7 linked regions of the Homo sapiens genome follow. The protein of the gene in region 2 purifies or fractionates together with the protein of the main gene of each other region. This does not show direct contact. Each region holds a gene or a part of one and is shown on either strand. Other genes may lie near its edges.

What was found.
Region 1: the proteins of ANKRD50 (region 2) and MAP9 purify together in Homo sapiens (affinity purification with mass spectrometry; one large-scale study listed by BioGRID and IntAct). This does not show direct contact.
Region 3: the proteins of ANKRD50 (region 2) and ARGLU1 purify together in Homo sapiens (affinity purification with mass spectrometry; one large-scale study listed by BioGRID and IntAct). This does not show direct contact.
Region 4: the proteins of ANKRD50 (region 2) and NKAP purify together in Homo sapiens (affinity purification with mass spectrometry; one large-scale study listed by BioGRID and IntAct). This does not show direct contact.
Region 5: the proteins of ANKRD50 (region 2) and HELLS purify together in Homo sapiens (affinity purification with mass spectrometry; one large-scale study listed by BioGRID and IntAct). This does not show direct contact.
Region 6: the proteins of ANKRD50 (region 2) and DDX46 purify together in Homo sapiens (affinity purification with mass spectrometry; one large-scale study listed by BioGRID and IntAct). This does not show direct contact.
Region 7: the proteins of ANKRD50 (region 2) and SLTM purify together in Homo sapiens (affinity purification with mass spectrometry; one large-scale study listed by BioGRID and IntAct). This does not show direct contact.

Annotation. Positions count from the first base shown.
Region 1 is NC_000004.12:155,356,466-155,359,965, reverse strand, and holds part of MAP9 (microtubule-associated protein 9), read left to right. Parts: intron 1-2,446; coding exon 2,447-2,517; intron 2,518-2,763; exon of another isoform or gene 2,764-2,877; intron 2,878-3,500. UniProt on the Homo sapiens protein: Involved in organization of the bipolar mitotic spindle. Required for bipolar spindle assembly, mitosis progression and cytokinesis. May act by stabilizing interphase microtubules.
Region 2 is NC_000004.12:124,706,233-124,709,732, forward strand, and holds part of ANKRD50 (ankyrin repeat domain-containing protein 50), read right to left. Parts: intron 1-3,500.
Region 3 is NC_000013.11:106,544,138-106,547,637, forward strand, and holds part of ARGLU1 (arginine and glutamate-rich protein 1), read right to left. Parts: intron 24-3,500; coding exon 1-23. UniProt on the Homo sapiens protein: Dual function regulator of gene expression; regulator of transcription and modulator of alternative splicing. General coactivator of nuclear receptor-induced gene expression, including genes activated by the glucocorticoid receptor NR3C1.
Region 4 is NC_000023.11:119,920,172-119,923,461, forward strand, and holds the end of NKAP (NF-kappa-B-activating protein), read right to left. Parts: 3' UTR 501-3,290; downstream 1-500. Other genes in the region: AKAP14 (A-kinase anchor protein 14), read left to right, coding at 337-436. UniProt on the Homo sapiens protein: Acts as a transcriptional repressor. Plays a role as a transcriptional corepressor of the Notch-mediated signaling required for T-cell development. Also involved in the TNF and IL-1 induced NF-kappa-B activation.
Region 5 is NC_000010.11:94,569,788-94,573,287, reverse strand, and holds part of HELLS (lymphoid-specific helicase), read right to left. Parts: exon of another isoform or gene 1,901-3,500; coding exon 1,859-1,900; exon of another isoform or gene 1-1,858. UniProt on the Homo sapiens protein: Plays an essential role in normal development and survival. Involved in regulation of the expansion or survival of lymphoid cells. Required for de novo or maintenance DNA methylation. May control silencing of the imprinted CDKN1C gene through DNA methylation.
Region 6 is NC_000005.10:134,786,279-134,789,778, forward strand, and holds part of DDX46 (probable ATP-dependent RNA helicase DDX46), read left to right. Parts: intron 1-2,234; coding exon 2,235-2,313; intron 2,314-2,937; coding exon of another isoform or gene 2,938-2,990; exon of another isoform or gene 2,991-3,336; intron 3,337-3,500. UniProt on the Homo sapiens protein: Component of the 17S U2 SnRNP complex of the spliceosome, a large ribonucleoprotein complex that removes introns from transcribed pre-mRNAs.
Region 7 is NC_000015.10:58,923,680-58,927,179, forward strand, and holds part of SLTM (SAFB-like transcription modulator), read right to left. Parts: intron 1-3,500. UniProt on the Homo sapiens protein: When overexpressed, acts as a general inhibitor of transcription that eventually leads to apoptosis.

The sequences.
Region 1 (3,500 bases), about 31 Mb from region 2:
CCAGTGTTTAAAAATTATCAGAGGTGTGTGATCATAATATACTTTTAAATGTCTCAGAAATGCATACTCATAGTGTATATATTTCCATAGGTCTTCATATTTTAAAAATATAACTGTCTGGAATAATTTCTGAGATTTTAAATTAGAGTTATGTTTTTGGATATTGTTTTAAAACGTGTTAACAATTTTAACAAAAATCTTAAAGAAATGTTTATCAACAGTTTATCAACATCTGTGCTTCTTTAAAATAGATGGTTATCATCAGGAACATTAGTATTATTATTCGTATTTGATCCTTTGCCTTTATTTCCTAATTTTCAAAATAATGAACTGGTGCCCTGGCAACCTCCAGAGGTGATGAAGTTGCTTTGTTTTTTCTTTTTTCAATTCATGTAAATTTAATGGTTACAAGTGCTTTTTTGTTACATGGATATATTGTGTAGTGGTAAAGTCAGACTTTTAGTATAAACTAAAATGTACATTGTACCCATTAAGTAATTTCTCATCCCGCACCTCCCTCTCACCTTTCCTAGTCTCCATTATCTATTATTCCATACCCTATATACATGTGTACACATTATTTAGCTCTGACTTGTAAGTGAGAACATGTACCATTTGACTTTCTGTTTCTGATTTATTTCACTTAAGGTAATAGCCTCCAGTTCCATCCATGTTGTAAAAGATATTATTTCTTTTCTGTGTGGCTGAATAGTATTCCTGTGTGTGTGTGTGTGTGTGTGTGTGTGTGTGTGTGTATACACATTTTCTTTATACAATCATATGTTGATGTACACTTAGGTTGATTCCATATCTTTGCTATTGTGACTAGTGGTGTGATAAACATGAGTGCAGGTATCTTTTTTATATAATGATTTATTTTCCTTTTGGCAGATACTCACAGTGGGGTTGCTGGATTGAGTGGTAGTTCTATATTTAGTTCCTTAAGAAATCCCCAAACTATTTTCCATAAAGATTGTACTAATTTACATTCTTACCAAGAGTATACAAGCATTCCCTTTTCTCTGTGTTCTCACCAACATCTGTTACTTTTTTAACTTTTTAATAATAGCTAAATATTCTGACTAGTATAATATATCTCACTGTGGTTTTAATTTGTGTTTCTCTGATGATTAGTGATGGTGAACATTTTTTTTCATGTTTCTTGGCCACTTGTATGTCTTCTTTTCAAAAAGTCTATTCATGTTTTTTGCCCTCTTTTTAGTGGGGTTATTTGTTTTTTGTTGTTGTTGTTGAGGGGAACATTATTATTATAACCTTAAGAAACAGATATGTAATATGTAGGATTACTTGTCCCTACATTAAATTGTGCCTGAGTGCTATACTTTAAAAATTTATGGTGTAGCATTTTCAGTCTTTGTTTCTCCTGAATTTGTCATTATCTCTTGTAGCTGCAATTAGCTAGCAGCTCTGTGTGTTTATTATCAGCGGAAGAAAACAGGGCTAGCTGAAAATTTGTGTTTGAGCAATACTTTTATAACATAAAATACAAGCTTTTCTTAAAATTGATGAAGGAGGTTCATTAAGCCATGTTCCAGGTATATCATCCTTAGCTAATTTCTTTAGGAAAAAAACACTACTGCTAAGTTAGGGATGTGTTTATTATGTCTGTGCTCTCACTTTACCACTAGCACCCATCAGTCTGTGTAAAGTAGAAAAGTTGTTCCTTAAAAGAAGAAAGGATATTCCGGAGTTTATAGACAGGATTGTAGAATGTCTAATAGAGGCAATTCTAAATTAGAACAGGCATTTCATATGTAACAAGTAAGGTTGTAACTTGTTTCTTTTGACTGGACCCTTGGCCTCATTCTTACTCTCTACTGAATGACCTTTTCTAAACAGAAATATAATCATTCTCCATTAAAGTCTTTTTGTTGGTTTCTCATCACAAGAATTCCATCCAGACTCCTCATCGCTGCCTAGTGATCTCACCTGGTTCTTCCCTGACCACGTCTTCCTCCGCTTTCCCTGCCATTCACTATGCTTCAGCTCCATTCACCTCTTTCTGTTTTTCAGAGATAACAGGTTCCGTCCCTTCTCAGGCTTTTACCCACTTGCTGTTTCTTTCTTTCATAGACCTTTCGGTGGGCCCTTTGCACTCTTAGCTCTGATGTCAGCCCCTCAGGACAGCCTTCCCTGACCAACTTCTTTAAAGCAGCTCCTCAGCCCCACTCTAGTCATTCTCTGTCACTGCACACTATTTTATGTCCTTCATGAGCCATGTTTGCTTATATATTTATTTTTGGTCATCCGTCTCTAGAATTTAATATTCTTAAGGGCATTTTATTCACTGATTTGCTCCCAATTTCTACTGTGTTTGACACATAGTAGATGCTTAAAGAATAGTGATTTACTGGCAGTTTGGCTTCTAAGCCTAAAAAGGATAGTTGTCATGAATAAATCATCTTTGGCATTTTCTGTTTAATAGAAAACAATTGAAGATAGAAATATAAAGAATAAAAAGTCAACAAATAATAGAGCATCCAGTGCATCTGCCAGGTAATAAAGTTACCAATATTTGTCATTTATGGGCTTGCATTCTAGCAAAGCTAGTTTTAATTTAACTTTCATAAAGTAAATTTCATTTGGTGTTACTGTATTTTCTTTTTATTTCCATTTCATAAAATGAAAGTAGTTAACTTCATGATAAAACCCCTTGGTTGATGATATTATTTGAAATAAAGTAATTTATAAAAAGTAAGTCTATTACTGATTGTTTTAGTGCCTGGAATGTTTATGCAATACCTTTGCTCTCCAGGATCGTCCTAGGAATATTTTTCTTCTTTCTTAATGTCAGTGATTAGGGATTCTTTGTGCTCCAGACTGCTTCTGGAATAGAGCTTCTTTCTCCTACTTTTCCTGAGACAAGCAATATAAAATGGTAATAAAGCTGAAGTCTAGCAATGATACTTATTCATTATCAAGTATCATTGTCTAACATGAGAAATTGTACTGAAAGCCTTCAGAATCTATGAACTAAGTAGGTTTATTAAAATGATTATCTGTATAGCTTCATTCACACCAATGATAATGAATGCCTAACTCATAAGTGCTAATCAAAAACCTTCTGAATCTTTAAAATTATCGTTAGTCAAATTATCATTAATCAAATAAAACAGAGCTAGCAAGCTTTTTCTGTAAATGGCCAGTTAGTGCATATTTTAGGCTTTGTAGGCGATACAGTCTGTATTGGAACTACTCATTTCTGCTATTTTAACAGGAAAGCAGCCACAGGCAAAACTTAACATGAATGATTACAGCTATGGTGCAATAAACTTTGTATATCAAAACCAATGGCTGGCCAAATTTTCCCACCAATCCCTGATATAGATAGTACTATTCTTTCTAATTTTATATTTGGAATGCTTCATGTAACAAAATGATGAAAGAAAATATTAAAAGAGTGATTATAACCTACTGTATTGTTTTTTCCATGTAACTTGAGAAGTGGTCCATATTTCTTAAGTTTCTAATTACAAATA
Region 2 (3,500 bases):
ACGCAAATGAACTATGCTTCAAACGGAGAACACTCTCATTATTTGTCATACAAATAAATGAATGTCAGAAGAAATTTCGTGACAACTATATCTAAAAAACTATAGAATATACTATACCATGTCAGAAGGGAAGAAAGTGGCAATGTTTCACTAGATTAAGATGAAGTTCCTTTCACTCTTCCTTAATTATTATGAACTAGTAATTAACAAATTACGATTTAGCCATATAATTTCATGTATCACGTATTCTATCTACTATCATTAGGCACAAAAAAAATTAAAGAAAGCTAAGAAGCAAACTGAAGAAAAGATAAGTGGATTTAAAAAGCATCAAGTAAATCACTTCTCTGCAATTTCCCCAGCTTTGTGAATCTGTGAATAACTGAGATTTTTTCATTATCAACTTTCTATAACTATTAAAATTGTTTCACACATGAATACGGATGCTCCTTAACCTATGATAGGATTACACCCTGATAAATCCATTATATGTTGAAAATATCTTAAGTCAAAAATGCATCTGATAACTCTCAACCTACCAAACATCATCGCTTAGCCTACCCTACCTTAAGCATGCTCAGAATACTTACATTAGTCTACACTTGAGCAAAAGTATCTAACACAAAGTTTATTTTATAATGAAGTGTTGAATATATCATGTAATTTATTGAATACTATATTGAAAGTAAAAAACAGAACAGTTGTATGGGTACTCAAAGTAAGGTTTCTACTAAATACATATTGCTTTCTCACCATCCTAAAGTCAAAGAATCTTAAGTTGAACTATTATAAATTGGGAAAAGTCTGTATATGAAACCATCAATATTAGCAGAAATTTAAAGGTTAAAAAGTAATAATGCAAAAACTGGTTTTGGATTTAGTTTTTGTCAAAAGCGAAAAATAAATATTTTCCTGCTGTTTGCTTACATTTATATTTAATCTCCTGTCATGTTATAATTAGCTACTTCCATTTCCATTTCCCTCAAAATATTGTAACTCTTTGGAAACAATGGTTTTCAGCCCCATTTTCCACCTGTTGAATTATATCTATCCATGCCTAAATAAAATACGTTCCTATTAAAATTCTCTAAAGGACTTATTTAAGAAATCTGTCAATCAATAATAGAACCTACAATAAAATCTTGAATTATTTGTCCAAAAGTAGAAGCCTAGATAATGTAATATCACATACCAAACAAAAATACATCTTTTTAACTTTGAATTGTGCTCTCAGGTTTGCAAGTGAATATAGCTGTATTATAGCTTCACAGTTGTAATGGAAATGTGTCTCTATGAATGATCAAAAAGAGTGTTTCAATACCATAGTTCCCTAATTAATATCATGATCAATTACTTTAACGATGAAGAAAGAAAGTGACTCAGGTTTTTGAAAAGTCCAGTAAGAAATCAGTGAAGAGCACCAAAATGGTCCAAGTAGAAAGACTAAAGCCTTCTCTTTTATTAAAGTGTAAACTGGGAATGCAAAGTGATTGGCTCCTTCTGTCAATCAGAAAAGCAGGGCTGGTATGGTTTTTACACACAGCTCTAATTGCTTCTTCTTCCTCTTCAATTAGCTAATAACTGAGAATCACACAGGAAAAAGAAAAAATAAAAGAAACAATTGAATAAAAGAATTATTTTTCAGGAAAATCTATGATACCATAGAGAAAGCTATGCTTAGGATCAGAATATATCAAAAATACAGTAATCAGACATGATTTTTAAACATTCAACATTCAGGTATCAGAAATTTACATATGAATTTCAATAAATTATAAATTACATACCTTGGTTACATCAGATTAAGTTCACCTCAGACTAAGCTCTTTGAAAGTTATTGGTAGGTGTCAATAAACCTAAATAGCTTATGAAATTACTTATCACAAAGAAATGAAAATTCTGCTCTGCCACTAGTATCTTCAGAAAAAGCAGTAAGAAGAAAAGAGTTGCTTATGTACAGTTTTAATTCTATTAAAAGGTATAGTTTTATATTAAAGACTACATTATTTATTCTGTACAGTGATTCCATATTGAACACTCTCCATCAAACCTTGCATCTCACATGCCACAGGCATCAACTAACAGATTTCCTCATTAATTTAAGAATGATACAACAGTTTTAACGCTGACTTTGATGGCTAACAACAAAAGATAATAGATTTGCCTTTAGTTTTATTGGACTAAATTTACATATTAAAGAGTCTACAAGAATATCACACCTCTCAAAGATACATCCCTTTGGCTGACTTTAATAAATTCCTCCCATATTTGAATTCTGTACCATCCCTAACTCTCATTCTAGAATACCACTCCCTCTATCACTATATGGGTAATCTGAAAACCACACTCAAACCACACTGTGACACAACTCCTGTTCTCCAGCTTTGCCATACATAACCTTCTAAACCCCTCCTCTTCCCATCAAGTCCCCCAGAGAATTTCTAAGATTACTAACACATACACACACACACACACACACACACACACATACACACACACACATTTAAAATCTCAGCCCTGCCATTTACTAGTCTGTAACCTTGAACAATTTATTTAGCCTCTCTGTACCTTAGTTTCCTCATCTATAAAATGGGAGTAGTAACTACCTCACAGGATTATTATGAGGATTAAATGATCTAATATTTGTAAAGCACTTAGAATAATGACTGACACTTACTGTTTACTGTAATTACTATTAAATATTTTCAATATTACTTTCAAAATGTATAGATTTCACCCCATTAGATTTGAGGATATCATAAAAACAAACATCACTCTTTTTAGAGTGATTCAAATCTCTCCTAGAAACACACTCAAGCAGAAGAGAGCCACACACACACACACACACAAACCTCCAGTGCACAGTATACCAGAATCTTTGGAGAACAAACTTTTGCCCGCTAAGAATGTTATTGTAGAGAAAAAGCTTATGGCAAAATGGGTAATTCAAGCAGAAGTGAAGCACAAACTAACAATTTGCCTGCTACTTTTACAATGAGCAGAGGCATGATATGCAAAAAAAAATGTTTTCAAGGAATTATATTTTCTTGAACAGATTTGAATCTGAAACCACTCTGGAAAGCAACTTGCTCACTTCCTGGACCAATCCATTTACCATGGAAAAAAAGCTTTGCTGAAGTTAGGAAAAAACACTTTCTTTGTACCACTCACTAAAAGTAAAAGTAGTAAGATGATCCCAAATGTTCGCTATTTTATAAATTCACATACTTCTAAATACCAGTTTTTCAATTAGTTAGTTAATAGGAGAATAAATCCCAAAACTCATCAGCAAATTTTCTTCAGATTCTCAGTGGCCAATAATCTCCTTTAAAGAAAACCTTTCTTACTTAAAAAAATACTACTACTATAAGGAAAAAAATAAAAAGATACTAGATGCTATACTGATAATTACTCTAAGTTCAGTTCACCCTCTGAAAATGTAACCTATTTCCAGACAGCTAAATGTGCTTCTCTACCATAAGAACAAATTTCCCTTACCA
Region 3 (3,500 bases), on a different chromosome or scaffold from region 2:
ACAATTCTCAACTGTTCTTCGGCCTGAAAGTTAAAAGTAAAAATTAATTATAGAAATGTATTAAAAATTATCATATGTACCCCTGCAACAGGTGTTATCTATTATGTATCTACAAAAAAATTTTTAATGCAAATGCAAAAAAGGGGGTAAAAACAAGGACTTCCTATGAATTACATGCCTTCAAAATATTTTAGTTATGAGGTGACAACTTACACACAATGGCATGTGTCATAAAATCTGACGAAGGTCACATAGTTTGGTAGAGAAAAAAGAATTAAGAAAATTAAAAGAGAACCCTTTATTAATTACATCTACATTTTCTGTCTTTCATTTTCAATGAAAATAAATGAACAAATTATGGAAAAGCATTTACACATTTTGGAAGTGGAAATTAATTTCCACAAATCACATGTTGAGATGACAGATTTTGTTCTATACCTATTTTTATCTCTAACTTCATTGTACCAGATTAATAGATTGTTAATTATAAACCGAGGTACAGATTTACTCAAAGAGCAGGTTATCTACCAATTGCCATATTTATAGTTGAAGGGCATACACACACACAAAAAAACAGAAACATAGGAAAAAATCTCCACTGGGGCTTTTTGTGTGGTCAAATCATGCTGAAAAAAAAGGGACTATATTATAGTATCAGTAGACAACCAAGAAACACGACAGACCCAATTACCTGAAGAAAAATATTACAAAACCTTCTGACCTGACTAACTATAAAGTGCTATCTAATTTCAAAAGGACACTGGTATAACTGATTCCACTCCTGCAGTGCCTTCAACTCCTTCCATGTCAAGCAACTTCTTTCCCGCATTCTTCCACAGATTTCCCCCTCTTTACCAAAGTCAGGCCCTTCTCATGCTTCCTAGAGATACCATACACACATCTTCAATTCTCAATTCTCAACCAAGCACAATTTTAATCCCTTCCCCAAGGGGACATTAGGCAATGCATGGAGATGATTCTGGCTGCCACAACTGGGAATGGCTCCTGGCATCTAGTGGGTGGAAGACTGGGACAATGCTACACATCCTATAATATGGAAGACAGCTCCCACAACAAAGAATGATCCAATCAGTGCCAAAATTGAGAAAGCCTGCTCTAACCCTTTTTAATATCAGTTATCATGATTTATCCTTTTTCCCCTCTATCTGACAGTGATCTTAAAACATTCGCTGCATCCTTTGAGCTGCCTACCTATTCCCATTCAAAGTCAAATTTTAGGTCATTGATTCCATCTCCATTATTCTACTAAAATTTTCTTCTGTATGGTCAAAATCTATCAAATTCAGTGATTTTTCTCTTTATTCAAATAAATTCTTCTGTTCACTTAAGTCTTTTAAAAACGTTCTCTCTTCTGATACATTCTCTAATGCCACACACTAATTACTTCTTTTGTCTCCATTGATATATATGTATTTTTTAAATAAAGTGTAAAGTGACTGGTTTACAGGCATTTATGGCAGAGGAAGATGGAAAAGGTAACAGGACTCCGGTATGCAATAAAAAATGTTGAGATTTTATCTTAAGTAGCAAAAAGGGAAGAACGCAAAGAAGTTTAGACAGCAATGTGACGTAGACTAAAAGATAGGTGTTGGAACAAATCAACCGCAGTCAAGTAAGGTTGGAGATAACAAAGATCAGAATTACAAGCAGTGAGAGAATCTGGCAGGTGAGCATGGTGGAAAATCCAACAGAGAGCTAAAATGTATCTTTAAGATACAGCTCTCTAAAACCTTTTTCCTATGCTACATTTAGACCTGGCTACTGGACACATCCACCTGGGAGACCTAGGACTTGCTTCAAAATTCAACATGTTTCAAGATTTAAATTCTTCCACTTTATCCTTAAAATAAATCTGCCCTTTACACTTTCCCTTCCGCCACTCAAATTCTATAGCTTTATTTCATCTCTTCCTTCTTCAGTCAAGTTTGTTACTTCTTGTTTTATATTCTCTGCCTAGAGTTTATTTTCATTTCTTTTGCCAGCTTCATCAGTTTAGGGCCACATATCTTTTGTACATCTAAAATGGTGCCCGTTTCCAGTGTGTCCTTCAATCCATCCTACACGATACTGCCAGACTCACCTTTCTTGACCACTGCTCACTCTTTCTTGTTCTCAAATTGCCAATGATATCCACTGTCCATGGCATACAGCTTAACTTCCTAAAGTATAATGTTTCTCTAAGACAAGATTTTCTATAACCTGGCTCCAGCTTTGTTTCTACTCCTCTTCTAAATTCTCCTTTCTATCTTGTTCCCCCGTCTTTTGCTCATGCCATTCTTTCCTTCTATGGAAATCCTACCTGTACATCAGAATCTATTTCAAATAGCCACTCTCTTCCTTAGGCTTTCACTGATATTACAACAAAAAGAACTGCCTGCTATCGGTCATCATTAATGAATTCATATGCCAATCACTTTATCCAGTTTTAATAAATCATCACAAATTTGGGGTAAGAGCTTAGTGTGTGCAACTGAATCAAGATGTAGTAAGGGTTCTTTGGATGTGTGTGTGTGCCTAAGAAACATTTTATCAATATAAATACTCAGATTCACTTTCTTCTAAGGTTCTAACTCAACCCTAGGAAAGCATCCTAGAGCCCTGGAGAGTGAGGGTACATAAAGAACATCACAACCTTAATCCATAAGAGAAATCTAATGAACATTACAAATATACCATTTTTTACCCTAGAAGACAGAAATTCAAAGTGTGACAGCACACTGCTGTGGTTTCAGTATGTCCCCCAAAGGTCGCTGTTAGAATTAACTGGCATTGTTAACAGTATTAAGATGTGGGGCATTTAAGCAGTGATTAGGCCATGAGGGGTTCATCCTCATGAATGGATTAATTCTGTTATTACCCGAGTGGGATGTGGGTTGGTTACCATGGGAATGGGCTCCTGATAAAAAGACGAGTCTGGCCACCACTTTTCTCTCTCTCTAGGGCCCTCTCTGTCTAGCTTGCTCGCCATGTGATGCCTTCCACCATGGGGAAACCTCATGGGATGCCTGTGCCATGTTCTTAGGCTTCCCGGCTTCCAGAACCCTGAGCCAAATATTTTTATAAATTACCCTGTTAGAGCAGCAAAAAATGGACTAACACACATATGCTATCATATAAAGAGCACTCTCACACTATCAAAATTACATCTTCGTAATACTTTATGCCAGCAAGTACATTTTCTGGAATTTACATTATGTACTTGTACAGCAATGTGCAAATTTTGCACCCATGCGAAACTGATATATTTACAGGGTTACATATTACAACACAGTTTATAGAAAGAAAAGAATGTGAAAAAAACCCAAATATCCACCAATATGGGGTACACTAAATAAATTACTGAAGATATATAAAGGAGAATATTGTATAGCCATTAAAAACAAGTAAGAGGAAAAAAGGAGGCCCCTATGTTCCGCAATGGAAAAATCTCCAAGTTACACTGTTAAATGAAAAAAAGAAAGTTCCTTGTGTACATGCTA
Region 4 (3,290 bases), on a different chromosome or scaffold from region 2:
TTGCTGGAGTGGGGTGGAGGCAAAGTGGGTCATGTCTATCGTTTCTAAGGAAAACTTCAATATCACATAAAATTAACTCATGTATAATAATCCCTTTTATAGCAGCTCTCTTAAAGTATCTTTACATATAAGCTCATAAATCCTTTCATTGACTGGGCTTAAGAAACAGTAAAGGATAGACATAGAGAACCTTAGCTACCTCCCCTCCCCCGCCAATAAAAGAGGCTTCTTGCTTACTAGGAATATAAAAGAGTAAATAGGGAATCCCCTTTGTTTGATTTTAAAAGCTTTTGATTTAAAAATACTTTAAAAGTGTTTGTTTTTCTTCCTTTGTAGACCAGGAATGGTTCGCTTTCGAGAAAACTGGCAGAAGAATCTTACTGATGCCAAATATAGTTTCATGGAGTCATTCCCCTTCTTATTCAATCGTGTCTGATACTTACAGGATGTCTTAGGATTGTTTTTCTCATCAGGATACATTAAAAATACAATACAGCACGTCAAACCACAGAATATTTATTGAGTAATAAACTTGTGGCACACAATCCAGCTGTATTTTTTTGCATTCATTCATTTTCCATTCTGCAACCTCCATCACATTAGCAGAGTAACCAGTAAGTTGTTTTCTATTTTCTAAAGTATTTTTTTCTATCACTATATGTATCACTTCTGAGTCTTACAGGTATAGAGCTGAGTTTAGAGAGTTGCTAAAATTCACCTATTGGACCAAACTAAGGTTGGTACTTGGCTGTTTGTTCCCCATCTGAGCCTAAGTCTCCAGCTCAGACACATCTCTTTATGGGCACAACTGGGAACAACAAAATGGCAACAGTTCTACAGCTCATAATATAACCAGTCTGAAGGGTTCCCCTACTCACAGACCCCTTCATTTACTGGGAGTTAAGCCTCACTGCTAAATAATATATTTTGAAACTGGAAAACTGGGCATGCTGCCTTCCACAATACACCACTATACTCATGATTGCAGGAGGGTGGCTTGGGGACTAGGGGCAATGACACGGGAAGGATACAATCATTGCCCTTACTTATCTTTGATCTTCTTCCCATCCTCACACTGAATAATCACTTGTTCCTACCTTCCCTGTGAACCTCTCTTGCCTGGCTGCAAAATTTTAAGACACCAAAGACAAAATTACATTATGCTCTGAGTGATTACTTACAAGTACATCAGAATATTTACTTACATAGAAAAGCACTGGAAAGGAGGAACACAAAATATGAAAGACAATTGATATGGTACTGAAATTTTTCTTTTTTAACTGTTAGATATTTGTGCAATAAATAAAAAAGGAGGGAAAACCACATCAGAGCAATAGGCAAGGAGGTGGCAAACTAGATAAGTCTCCTTGGAGAACAAAAAATATATTTAAAATACAATAGCCCTACTACAACTGATTTATGGCTCAGGTGACTAAACACAATTTGAAGCAGTAACAACACTCATAAGCTGAAAATAAAATACTTTTAGCCCTTTTATTCTTCTTGCCTCTTTCCCAAAGAATATGCCAATGAAGCTGTTCTTGATGTCACAATATTCATATATCGCAGAATTTCTGCATTTAAACTACCTTGCCTACTGAAAATAAGATAATCATTTCATCTCTAGGAACCAGTAACCAAAAAAAAAATGTCCTTAGAGAATACATTTTTATTTGTTTGTTTATTTAGAGACGGAGTCTCATTCTGTCTCCCAGGCCGGAGTGCAGTGGCTTGATCTCGGCTCACTGCAACCTCCACCTCCCAGGTTCAAGCAATTCTCCTGCCTCAGCCTCCCGAGTAGCTGGGACTACAGGCACGTGCCACCATGCCCGGCTACATTTTTTGTATTTTTAGTAGAGATGGGGTTTCACCATGTTAGCCAGGATGGTCTTGATCTCCTGACCTCATGGTCCGCCCACCTCGGCCTCCCAAAGTGCTGGGATTATAGGTGTGAGCCACCACGCCCAGCTGAGAATAAAATTTTTAAGTGGGTATTACAAAATTCAGGTTTTATTATTCAGGGAAGTAGATGGATTGAGACTCAAAACTTTGGGAACTAGTTTCTTTTAACTTTTGAAAACTACAGATTTATTAGGCTAGGCAGCAACTACAATTAGGTATAAATAAACAGAAATCATTTCAAATTCAGGGGTCATTAATGCTGCTACATGCTGACTCTTATTTTCAGTAGTTGCGGGTTAAAAGTAGACATTTCCTGGAACATATATTTAATAGTATTTAAGACTGTTAATACTGTTTAATTATAAAACTTTGGGCCGGGTGTGGTGGCTCACGCCTATAATCCTAGCACTTTGGGAGGCCGAGGCGGGCGGATTGTTTGAGGTCTGGAGTTTGAGACCAGCCTGGGCAATAAGGTGAAACCTTGTCTCTACTAACTATACAAAAATTAGCTGGGCATGGTGGTGCACACTGGTAGTCCCAGCTGCTCGGGAGGCTGAGGTGGAGGATTGCTTGAGCCCAGGAGGTGGAGGTTGCAGTGAGCCGAGATTGCACCACTGAACTCTAGCCTGGGTGACAGAGGGAGACCCTGTCTCAAAAATAATAATAAAAAAACTTTTGCTCTATACTTTGAAATATGACTGCCTTATTTAAACACTTTTGAAAAACAACCACTTAAAAATATAAGGCAAGCGGGCATTTTACAATAGTATAATCAGAATGTCCTTATCACTCAGGTAATTTAAATTTATCATAGGCATGTAATAATAATGCAGATCAAATAACCTTAACAAAAACGGCCAGGCACGGTTGCTCACACCTGTAATCCCAGCATTTCAGGAGGCTGAGGCGGGCAGATCACTTGAGGTCAGGAGTTCGAGACCAGCCTGGCCAAGATGGCGAAACCCCATCTCTATTGAAAATACAAAAATTAGCCAGTTGTGGTGGTGAGTGCCTGTAATCCCAGCTACTTGGGAGGCTGAGGTGGGAGGATCACTTGAACCCAGGAGGCAGAGGTTACAGTGAGCCGAGATCACACCACTGGGCTCCAGCCTGAGTGACAGAGTGAGACTCTATCTCAAAAAACAAAAAACAGAAAACCAACCTTAATGAAAACAGCCAAAACTTCCTGGGTTCCCTCCCCCATTCACTCTTCTGACCTAATTAAAATTGAACGAAATAAACAAAGGAACAAGACCACGATATCATAGTCCCACAATTTTCCATTTCTCCCCAACTTAAAAACAAACAGAAAGGTTTAAGTGTTTAAAATGAAATCTACTTAGTATATGAAAGACAGTTAAAAATATTTAATATCATTTTAGTTTCTC
Region 5 (3,500 bases), on a different chromosome or scaffold from region 2:
TAACAGATACTTTACAAAAGAAAACATACAGGCCGGGCATGGTGGCTCACGCCTGTAATCCCAGCATTTTGGGAGGCCAAGGCAGGCAGATCATGAGGTCAAGTGATCAAAACCATCCTGGCCAAAATGGTGACACACTGTCTCTACTAAAAATACAAAAATTAGCTGAACATGGTGGCATGAGCCTGTTGTCCCAGCTACTTGGGAGGCTGAGGCAGGAGAATCGCTTGAACCTGGGAGGCAGAGTTTACAGTGAGCCGAGATCGTGCCATTGCACTCCAGCCTGGGCGACAGAGTGACACTCCATCTCAAAAAAGAAAAAAAAAGAAAGAAAACATAGTTATCAAAGAACATAAAAATATACTCTACTTCAGTAGTAATTAGGAAAATGCAAGTTAAAAACCACACAAGTTACCATTTCTCATCTAATAAAATGGCTGAAATTAAAAAGACTATCAAATGCTGACAATAATGTAAGCTGGAGTTTTCAAACATTGCTGGCGAGAGAATAAAATGATGTGTTTACTTTGGGGGGGAAAATCTGTACTTTCTTATGAACACACATTTGCCACGTAACACAACAATACCATTCCCAGGTACACAGGCAGAAAGTATGAAAACATGTCTACACATGGACTTGTGTGCAAATTATCATAGCAACCTTACTCATAAAAGTCACAAACTGCAAACAACCCAAATGCCCATCAATAAGGGGATGGATGAGAAAATTGTAACATTCATTCAACAGAATACTAGTCAATAAGAAGAAACCGGTTACTAATATGCTCAACAACATAAATGAGTATCACAGACATGTTGAGTGGAAAGGAAATAATAAGCCATCCTATAAAAGGTGTAAAAAGTGGCCTCCTCTGGGTTTGGGGGTGGAAAGACATAGAAGAGATCCCTTTACAATGGAAATGTTCTATACCTTGATTTGGATGGTGGTTACACAAGTGTATGCAAGTGTCGAAATTCATTAAAATACCATACTTAACAACTATTTCTTACTGACTGTAAGTTATAAAATGAAGCCAAAATCCCATAGTAAATTACAGAAGATTACATCTAGACTTTATCTTAAAAATCCAACTAAATGTTTATCTAACTAAATCTTTAAAAATCCAACTAAACTGCACCCATAAACCAGTCCTTAATAACTTAACAAAGAATAAAAACCAAGACACTTTTACAATATAAATTTTGGACAAAATTATATGACCAAATAGATTATCTCTCATTTTATAAACATAACATTAATTTCCCAAAGGCCTAAAAATCTTTAATATGTAAATTAACTACCTGAAGTTCATATCCATTCATGAATATTTTCATGTCATGATTATTTTGCTTCCCTAGGCAACCTTGTAATTTTAAGTACTTGAACAATAAAAAGTCAGATAACAAGGAACCTCTCTACATGAAATGGGCTAAGTGAAGAGGTGGCTCGGAAATCAAGCCTTCTCAAACAGAACTTTTAAGAAACTTAAAAAATCTTTAAGGTCTGAAGCAAGATTAAGGCATCCCTCACAGCTTCCATAAGATGATTCACGGTTTATATCCACATGGTTACGAGCACTTGTATCACTGCCAGATTCACAAGTTAAAAGCAACATTGCTAGACCCATAAATTAACATTTATACATCAAGAATCATGCAATAAAACAACTAACTAAAGTTGATACATAAAAAAGAAGAATGTTGGATATGGAAGAAGTGAATACATAGGTATTTTTTTTTAAAGCAAAGAAACAGGATAATAGTGAGAAGAACGTATACTGCTGATTAAAGAAAAAGGACTAGTAACTGAGGAGTAAATATGACTTCTAAACTTAATCTTACATTATAAATTTCTTACCTCATTCTCCTTTTTATTTTTTTTAGCCACAGACAAAATTTCCTAGTAGTTTGAGAAAACAAAAACAAATTAATAATGTATGAAGTTCATTTATTTATTTATTCAACAAGCATTTATTCTGTGCTCATTTTGCCAGGAAATGAGGATGAGATTCTCAAGATAAAACTAGTAGCCTTCAGGCAGAAATAAGCCTATAGACATTACTGGCTCATAATATTTCATAACATTCTAGGCTAATTTGGGAACACTTATACAATGGGATATTTCATCAAATACAGTGATTTTCCAGCTTTTCTTTCTTTTAATCTGAGTAGATTAAGTACAAATTCACACATGGCAACAAACCTCTAGTCCTGGGGTCAGCAAACTACAGCCTGTAGACCAACTCCAGCTAAGCGAATACACAGGTATTTTTTTAAAAGCAAAGAAATGGGATAAATTGGAACAAAGTCAGCCTCACTTGTTTACGGTTTGTCTATGGCTGCTTTCAAGCAACAACAGCAGAGTACAGGGTTGAGTAGTTGCCCACAAAACTACTCAAAAGCTAAAAATATTTACTATCTGGCTATTTACAGAAAAAGTTTGCCAAACCATGTTACAGCCCACTTTAGGCCTCTGTGGATAGACATCTGAGTTTGCATTCCTGGGTAAGAGGCAAAGACAGAAAAAATTAAAAATACAGAATAAAGTGCTCTGATTTTGAAGTACCTACTAGATGCTGCTGGTAGGGAGACAAACAATACCCGAGTATGTCACTGGATGACTTAGCAAATAATTATCTTACATAAAATTATCTAAAAAGTTGTCACCAGGCTTCATCATTCAAGATAGTGAGGGTAGATTTCAAGCAGAGAGAATATAGAAGGCATAGGGGATGAAGTAGATTCAAAACAGCAATATCAAATTTAAGATTCATAGAAGAGTAACAGGACATGTAAGTGGCTGACACACACACATATATATACATGGGAATATATGTATATCGTGTGTGTATGAAGTATTATGTATGTATAGATATTCATATTATAAGGCTGAGGCTAAAAGGATTTTATACCAGGAACTGATAAAAGCTGTCCTGTAAAATGACTAGATAAAATGAAACTTTTGAAAGAACAATTTGGAAATAAATCAAAATCTATAAATACCACCAATGAAGTATTCTTATTAAAAATCAAGCATGGGCAACATGGTGAGATCCCATCTCTACAAAAAATATAAATGTTGGCTGGGCTTGGTGGTACACGCCTGTAGTCCCAGCTACTCAGGAGGATGAGGTGGGAGGATTGCTTGAGCCCAGCAATCAGAGGTTCAATGAGCCGAGATGGCACCACTGCACTCCACCCTGGGCAACAGAGAAAGATCTTGTCTCCCAAAAAAAAATAAAAATAAAAAAAAAAATAAAAAAACACCTTAATCACAAACTTCCGTATTTAACTTATAGTTACTATAGTTAACAGGAAACACAAGAGGCAGAGAAATCATGGGGATACAATCAGTAAAGTCTAGAATGTGGGGAATTATACAGAATTACTCATTTTCTTCAACAAATAATGTTTCTTAAAAAAGATGAGAGACACTCTAGATCTAAAAGAGACCCAAGATACGCATTAATCAAACACAATTTATGTAACTTTTTCGGATC
Region 6 (3,500 bases), on a different chromosome or scaffold from region 2:
TTTTGTTAATTATGACCCAATATAGTTGTGGCAAAAAAGAACATACTATGTTAATGCTAGATTAGAATTTTTGAATCTTTTTACATAGATTATCCCTCCTCCCTCTTCCCCTGCCTGAGAAAGCAGATTTTTTTTTTCATTTTACATATGAGGAAATATTCAGAAAGATTTATTAAGTTGACCAATTAGGTTAATACGTTCTAGAGTTTGTCCTGGAACCTAGGTCTCTGATCTCTGAGCATTTGTTTCTCTAATCTATGCTGACATCTTTAAAAAGTGATGGTGGCCAGGCACGGTGGCTCATGCCTGTAATCCCAGCGCTTTGAGAGGCCGAAGCGGGTGGATCATGAGGTCAGGAGCTCAAGACCAGCCTAGCCAACATGGCGAGACTCCCCGTCTCTACTGAAAACACAGAAATTAGCCTGGCTTGGTGGCGCCTGCCTGTAATATCAGCTACTCGGTAGGCTGAGGCAGGAGAATCACTTGAACCTGGGAGGCGGAGGTTGCAGTAAGCTGAGATCACGCCACTGCACTCCAGCCTGGGAGACAGAGCAAGACTCCATCTTGGGGGGTGGCGGAAGTGATGGTGATTACTGGGATGCATTAATATCAGAGGTGTTTTGTTGTTGTTGTTGTTGTTGTTTTTTGGTTTTGTTTTATTGGAGACAGCATCTTACTCTGTTGCCCGGGCTGGAGTGCAGTGGTGTGACCTTGGCTCACTGCATCCTTGACCTCCTGGGCTTAAGCCGTCCTCCCTCTTGAGCCTCCTGAGTATCTGGGACCACAGACGCATGCTACCACACCCGGCTAGTTTTTGTATTTTTTTGTAGAGACGAGGTTTTGCCATGTTGCCCAGGCTGGTCTTGAATTCCTGGGCTCAAGCAATCTGCTTGCCTTGGCTTCCCTTTGTAACACCTCCGAAAGGTATAGACGTGAGCCACTGTGACCAGCCCTTCAGCTGTCTTCTAAAGAATGAAATAGTTTTCAGATATTTTGCTTAACTAGAAGAAGGCAAAAAAGTAGGTTCTGTGATTGGATAAGTTTTGGAAATGTTGGAGTATAAAAAGTTAAAACCACTTTCTTTCCTGTAAGACTTCTTTGTTCTTAATAAGCTAATGTATATTGTGTTGCTAGATAAATGGGATAAATTAAGTGACGTTTTCTGAACTTAACTACAAAACTGTTTCTTAGGACTATTGTTACAAGAACACACTTCAAGAATATTTGCTTTTGTTAACTCCAGTGCTATTTTAATTACTTCAAATTACTTCATTTTCTAAGTTTATCTTTATGATTTTTCATGACTGTAGTTTGTAGAAATACACTTACAAAATAACATGGTACATGCCTGCACGTTGTATTTATATAAATGCCAAACAAAAGTTTTATGATGTTAAGGGACTTCTGGTATTTTCCATTCCATTTCATTTAAAAAATGCTGGTTGTGGTTGAACACTATGGCTCATACCTGTAATCATCACAGCATTTTGGGAGGCTGAAATGGAAGAATCACTTGAGTCCAGGAGTTTGTGACCAGCCTGGGCAATGTAGTGAGACCCCATCTCTTAAAACAGTAAATAAATTAGCGAGTGCCTGTAGTCCTAGATACTGGGAGGGTGTGTGGGGTGGTGGGGGGAGGGGCTGAGATGGGAGGGTCACTTGAGCCCAGGATCTAGGCTGCAATGACCTATGATGACACTGCTGCACTGGGCAACAGAGCCTGGGCAACAGAGTGAGACCCTGTCTCAAAAAAAAAAAAAAAAAAAGCTGATTATGACTGTTAAAGTGATTTCATGATTCACTAATGTGGCAACCCTCAATTTGAAAAACACTAGTCTATGTGGTCACTTAGAAATTTCTTTTTCTGAGGCAGGGTCTTGCTCTTGCTCAGGCTGGAGTGCAAGGATGTGATCATAGCTCACTCCAACCTTGAACTCCTGGGCTCAAGAGATTATCACTTTTTTTTTTTAAACTGCTTTCTTAAGTTCATTTCTTGGTTTTGAGGGATAGTGGCAAATCAAATTTGCAGAATTCTCTAGTTCTTATTTGTTTCAAATTTATGGCACTATGTGGTCACGTTGTTGCTATTTCTTTAGTAGTGCCCCGAGATTCAAAATAATTAAGCAGGAAGCTTGGAAGTCTTCTAATTAGACTAGGCAAGAACTAAATGCAGTATTTTTTAGTGTTTAAGTAAGCATTAGTAATAGACTATAAAGTTTCATCTTTTTTATTAGATTGCTGAGCTGAAAAGAGGTGCTGAAATTATTGTTTGCACACCTGGTCGAATGATTGACATGTTAGCCGCTAACAGTGGTAAGTCAGGGGTATTTTTTTGGTGTCTTTTATTTTTGAATTCTTTACTTTTTTTTGTTAAAACAGATGCAAGAAACCAACAAAGGGTTTCTATATTTCTTCTTAAAGCTGCAGTATCTTAAAATTTGTAGCCTGTAGTCCCAGCTACTTGGGAGGCTGAGGCAGGAGAATAGCTTGAACCCGGGAGGCGGAGCTTGCAGTGAGCCAAGATCGCACCACTGTACTCCAGCCTGGGTGACAGAGTAAGACTCCGTCTCAAAAAAAAAAAATAATAATTGTAACAAGTTGATTATTACAAGCATTAATGATATTTTTGCAATTTAAAATTTTTTTTCAGAAGTAACTCCATCTGATCATAACTTGGATTCTTAATCCAGTTTTGGCCTGGCTTTGCTTAGTAAAAGAGTGGGGTAGTAGCTTTTTCTTTATTACAAAATTTAGACTTTTTCTCCACATGAGCTAGTATTTTCTTAGATACTACATAAATTAAGATATTGCAGCTTCAAGAAATTTTATCTTTTGTAAATATTGCATGTTTGTAGCTCAAATGTTATGCTTTGTTAAATTATTCCCTATCAAAACTCTTACTAAACTGTTGACATTATTTAACTTCTGTGGAGAAAGGCCCTTCAAGATTTATAGAACTGGGCTTCCGAGACTTAAACCATCAAAGGTAGGTAATTTAATGCTGTTCCCGACCTTGCAAAACTAATTGGGGCTACAAATGCTAGTGTGGAATACTTAAATATTAGATAGCACTTATTTTGGCACTTTTTATTTTTTGAAGAAAATGCTCTCAGAGGTTTCCATTGCAATATTTAGTGTGTACATAATAGAGTATTAAAAACTGAGTTAGTGCATGTTTCTAGTAGTATTCTGCTTGAATTTCTAATTCTAATTGTACATGAAGTTGGCAAAGTGACATCGAAATTGAGAAGTCATTGTGCTTGTCTAGCATATGGAAAGTTTTGGTTTGAATGCTGATTAAATAATCCCTTTTTTTTTTTCTCAATGCTGCATTGATTAAGTCTCCTCCTGAAATTCATCTTGATTAATTTTACCTTTTTCTCTTATCTGTCATTGTGGTCTATTTTTAAATAACTATTTTATACGTGTTTTTGCCAGGTGATTGATTCAACAGTTGATAGCAATGCTTCTGTTAATATTTTAGAAGGAATTTCCTATGT
Region 7 (3,500 bases), on a different chromosome or scaffold from region 2:
ACTAAATAGTTTCACCTCTTTTGTCCTACAGGGAATCTAGCAACTGCCGCAAAACTGTGAAAGTGGCATGACCAGGATAAAGGAACTAACTGAAAGTGTAAGGCAGATTGAAGCCAAACCTTTTTTTTTTTTTTTTTTTTTTTTTTGGAGACACTGTCTCGCTCTTCTTGCCCAGGCTGGAGTGCAGTGCAGAGGCGCTATCTTGGCTCACTGCAACCTCTGCCTTCCGAGTTCAAGCAATTCTCCTGACTCAGCCTCCTGAGTAGCTGGGATTATAGCCTCATGCCACCACACCCAGCTAATTTTTGTATTTTTAATAGAGACAGGGTTTCATCATGTTGGCCAGGCTGGTCTCGAACTCCTGGCCTCAAGTGATCCACCGGCCTCGGCCTCCCAAGGTGCTGGGATTAGAGGCGTGAGCCACCACGCCTGGCCTGAAGCCAAACTTTTACGCTTTGAGGAAAAAACTACAAAATAAATTGGGCAGTAAACATAATCTGAATAACAAAATAAAAAATGAAAGCAAGATTAACCTATCACATCCTAAACTATCATAGTAGTAACATAGCTATTTTGAAATGACAAAAACAAAATCTAAAATATAACTTGCATGATTTGAGGGCCTAAAGTAAAATGGCAAAGTAAAAACGTATATACCAGAGAAAGACAAGACTATAAACATTTATGTAGCATAAATTTGTATAAGCCCAAAAATTCTTAATGAAACCCTCTGAGATATGTTTCAGAATTCACAATTTTCAGATTTTAGAAGAGTAAAACGTTGCATATACTATTTATTAAGTTAAACCTCCCAGTGGCTTCTGGAACAGTATTTCACAATCACAGAAACATTTTGTGCAATGAAATGTAAGCAGATTCACATCAAATGGGATAAGTCAAGACTATAAATAACTTTTGCCACCAAACTTAAGAAGAAACTTTCAGTTTTCAGAACTTTTTGTATTTGAGAATTCTGAGGATTTTGGATGATAAATTGGCTTTCTCCTCCAAAGGCAAATTGGTCTTTATAAGGGTTTGCAATTTTCCTTTTCCTCCAAAGGCAAACTAGTCCCTATAATGGTTTGCAATTTTCCTTTTTAAGTTCAGAAATACCTCCCAAACAAAAACAAATCCCACTTAATAATTAGTTTCTTTTCTTTGAGACAAGGTCTTGCTCTATCGCCCAGGGTGGAGTGCAGGGGCAGTCATGGTTCACTGCAGCCTCAACCACCTGGGTCCAAGCAATCTTCCTGCCTTGGCCTCCCAAAGTGCTGGGATTACAGGCGTGAGCCACTGCTCCCAGCCTAAGGAAATTTTAAAATCATTTTGCCAAAATACTTTATGGCTGAGTAACTTTTCCCCTTAAACATTCACAAGAGCTACGATAAAATGTTAAAAAAAAAAAAAAAAAAAGCTTAGTTATAAAATTTCTGTTGCAAGGGAGGGGAAGATTAAGAAGATATGCCAAACTGAAATGTTTCCAGCAACAACCTCTTCCCAATTGCATGGAGTATCTTAATCACAGGCCATGCCTTGTATTGTTTGCAAGTGTTTTAGCTTCTCTTCTATTAAACTGACATTTTACTAACAAAATCATTTTTCTGAAAGGCCTTGCACATTGTCTTAAACACAACAGTCATACAATAGGTCACTCTGAGTTTTTTGTTTCTGTTTTTGTGGCAGGGTCTTACTCTATTGCCCAGGCTGGAGTGCAGTGGCACAATCTCAGCTCAGTGCAACCTCTGCATCCTGGGTTCAAGTGACTCTCCTGCCTCAGCCTCCTGAGTAGCTAAGGTTACACGTGCCCAACACCATGCCCAGCTAGTTTTTGTATTTTTAGTAGAGATGGGGTTTCACCATGTTGGCCATGCTGGTCTCGAACTCCTGACCTCAAGTGATCCACCCGCCTCCACCTCCCAAAGTGCTGGGTTTACAAGAGTGAGCCATCCCACCTGGCCCAATAGGTCACTTTGAAAAATTACTACAAAGATAATTCACATTCATTATAATAAACCTAGAATATGCCAAAGGTATATTTTTCAAATATCTTACATTAATTATCTAAAGATGAACAGAATAAACAATTCCGGCACACTCCTTCAGGCAGGTGTGCCTACAAACACAAGACTGTCAAAGGTAATTTAACTGGGTTCTTAATGAATTACCTTTCTATTCTACCAGTAAAAAGAAAATAGTCCTGCTTAACTCTCAGCACCGTTGTGAGAATCAAATAAAGCAATGTAGAAGTTTTCCGAAAACTGAAAAGTATATAAAATAATCTAGAAACTGACCAGCAGAGAGATGAATAAAAATGATGCTAAATTTCAAGCTTTAGTTTAGATTAGTTAGTTCTTAACTTCAGGTGTATGTAAGAATCACCTGGGGAGCTTTTAGAAAATACATACTGATGCCTGGGCCCCCAACATAACAACCCAAACCAACTCTATGGGGAGTGAAAGCCTGCTATCTGTATTTTTTAAAATTCAAATGACTAACGCAGAGTGCAGATCATGAGCCACTAAGACAAGTGAATCTATTTACAGAAGCTGTTGAGAAGAATATAGACGGAAGGTTATTGTTTTTTGATTCTCCAGACTACAGAAATATTTAAGTTCTATCTACCTTCAACAAAACACCATGTATGGTGTGAATCTATTTTAGTTGTTGAAAAGGGGGGAAAAAACCTTTAAACATAAACCTCCTGTAAGTACTTGCACATACACCTACACAACTTAGATCAACATGTGTTGTAATATGAAATGTGCTTTATGTGGTTGATTACTATATTAGATTAACTTTTAGAAAGCTTTACAGAGTAAACATGTACTTAATTATAAACATGTATATATATCATATGTAAAATGCTACATATGATAAATTCAGGGTGGTGGGATTACGGGTAATCTTCACTTTTTTGTACTTTTCTGGATTACCTTTTTTTTTTTTTTTCTTTGAGTCAGGGTCTTGTTCTGTCACCCAGGCTGGAGTGCAGCAGCACCATTTCGGCTCACTGCAACCTCCTCCTCCCAAGTTCAAGTGATTCTCCTGCCTGAGCCTCCAGAGTAGCTGGGATTACAGAACATGCTACCACACCTGGCTAATTTTTGTATTTTTAGTAGAGAGGGGGTTTCACCATGTTGGCCAGGCTAGTCTCGAACTCCTGACCTTGTGATCCACCCACCTCGGCCTCCCAAAGTGCTGAGATTATAGGTGTGAGCCACCGCGCCTGGCCAAATGTATGTTTTAATGGCTGCGATAAAAGGGCTAATTTTGTGAAATGAAAATGACATATACAACCTCTGAGGTTGGACAGTATTCCAGCAAGGTTCAGAGGCTTTTCAACACAGCATCAATGTGGTAAAGAATAAAAGGATGATGCAATGATTCATGTGTTCTAAAAGTAAGTATATTTTACATATCAATGTGTAAGGAGAAGCCATTATGCTCTTGAGAGAGGCACCTTTAAAAAAAAGATAAAAACTATTAATCCCTGATATACC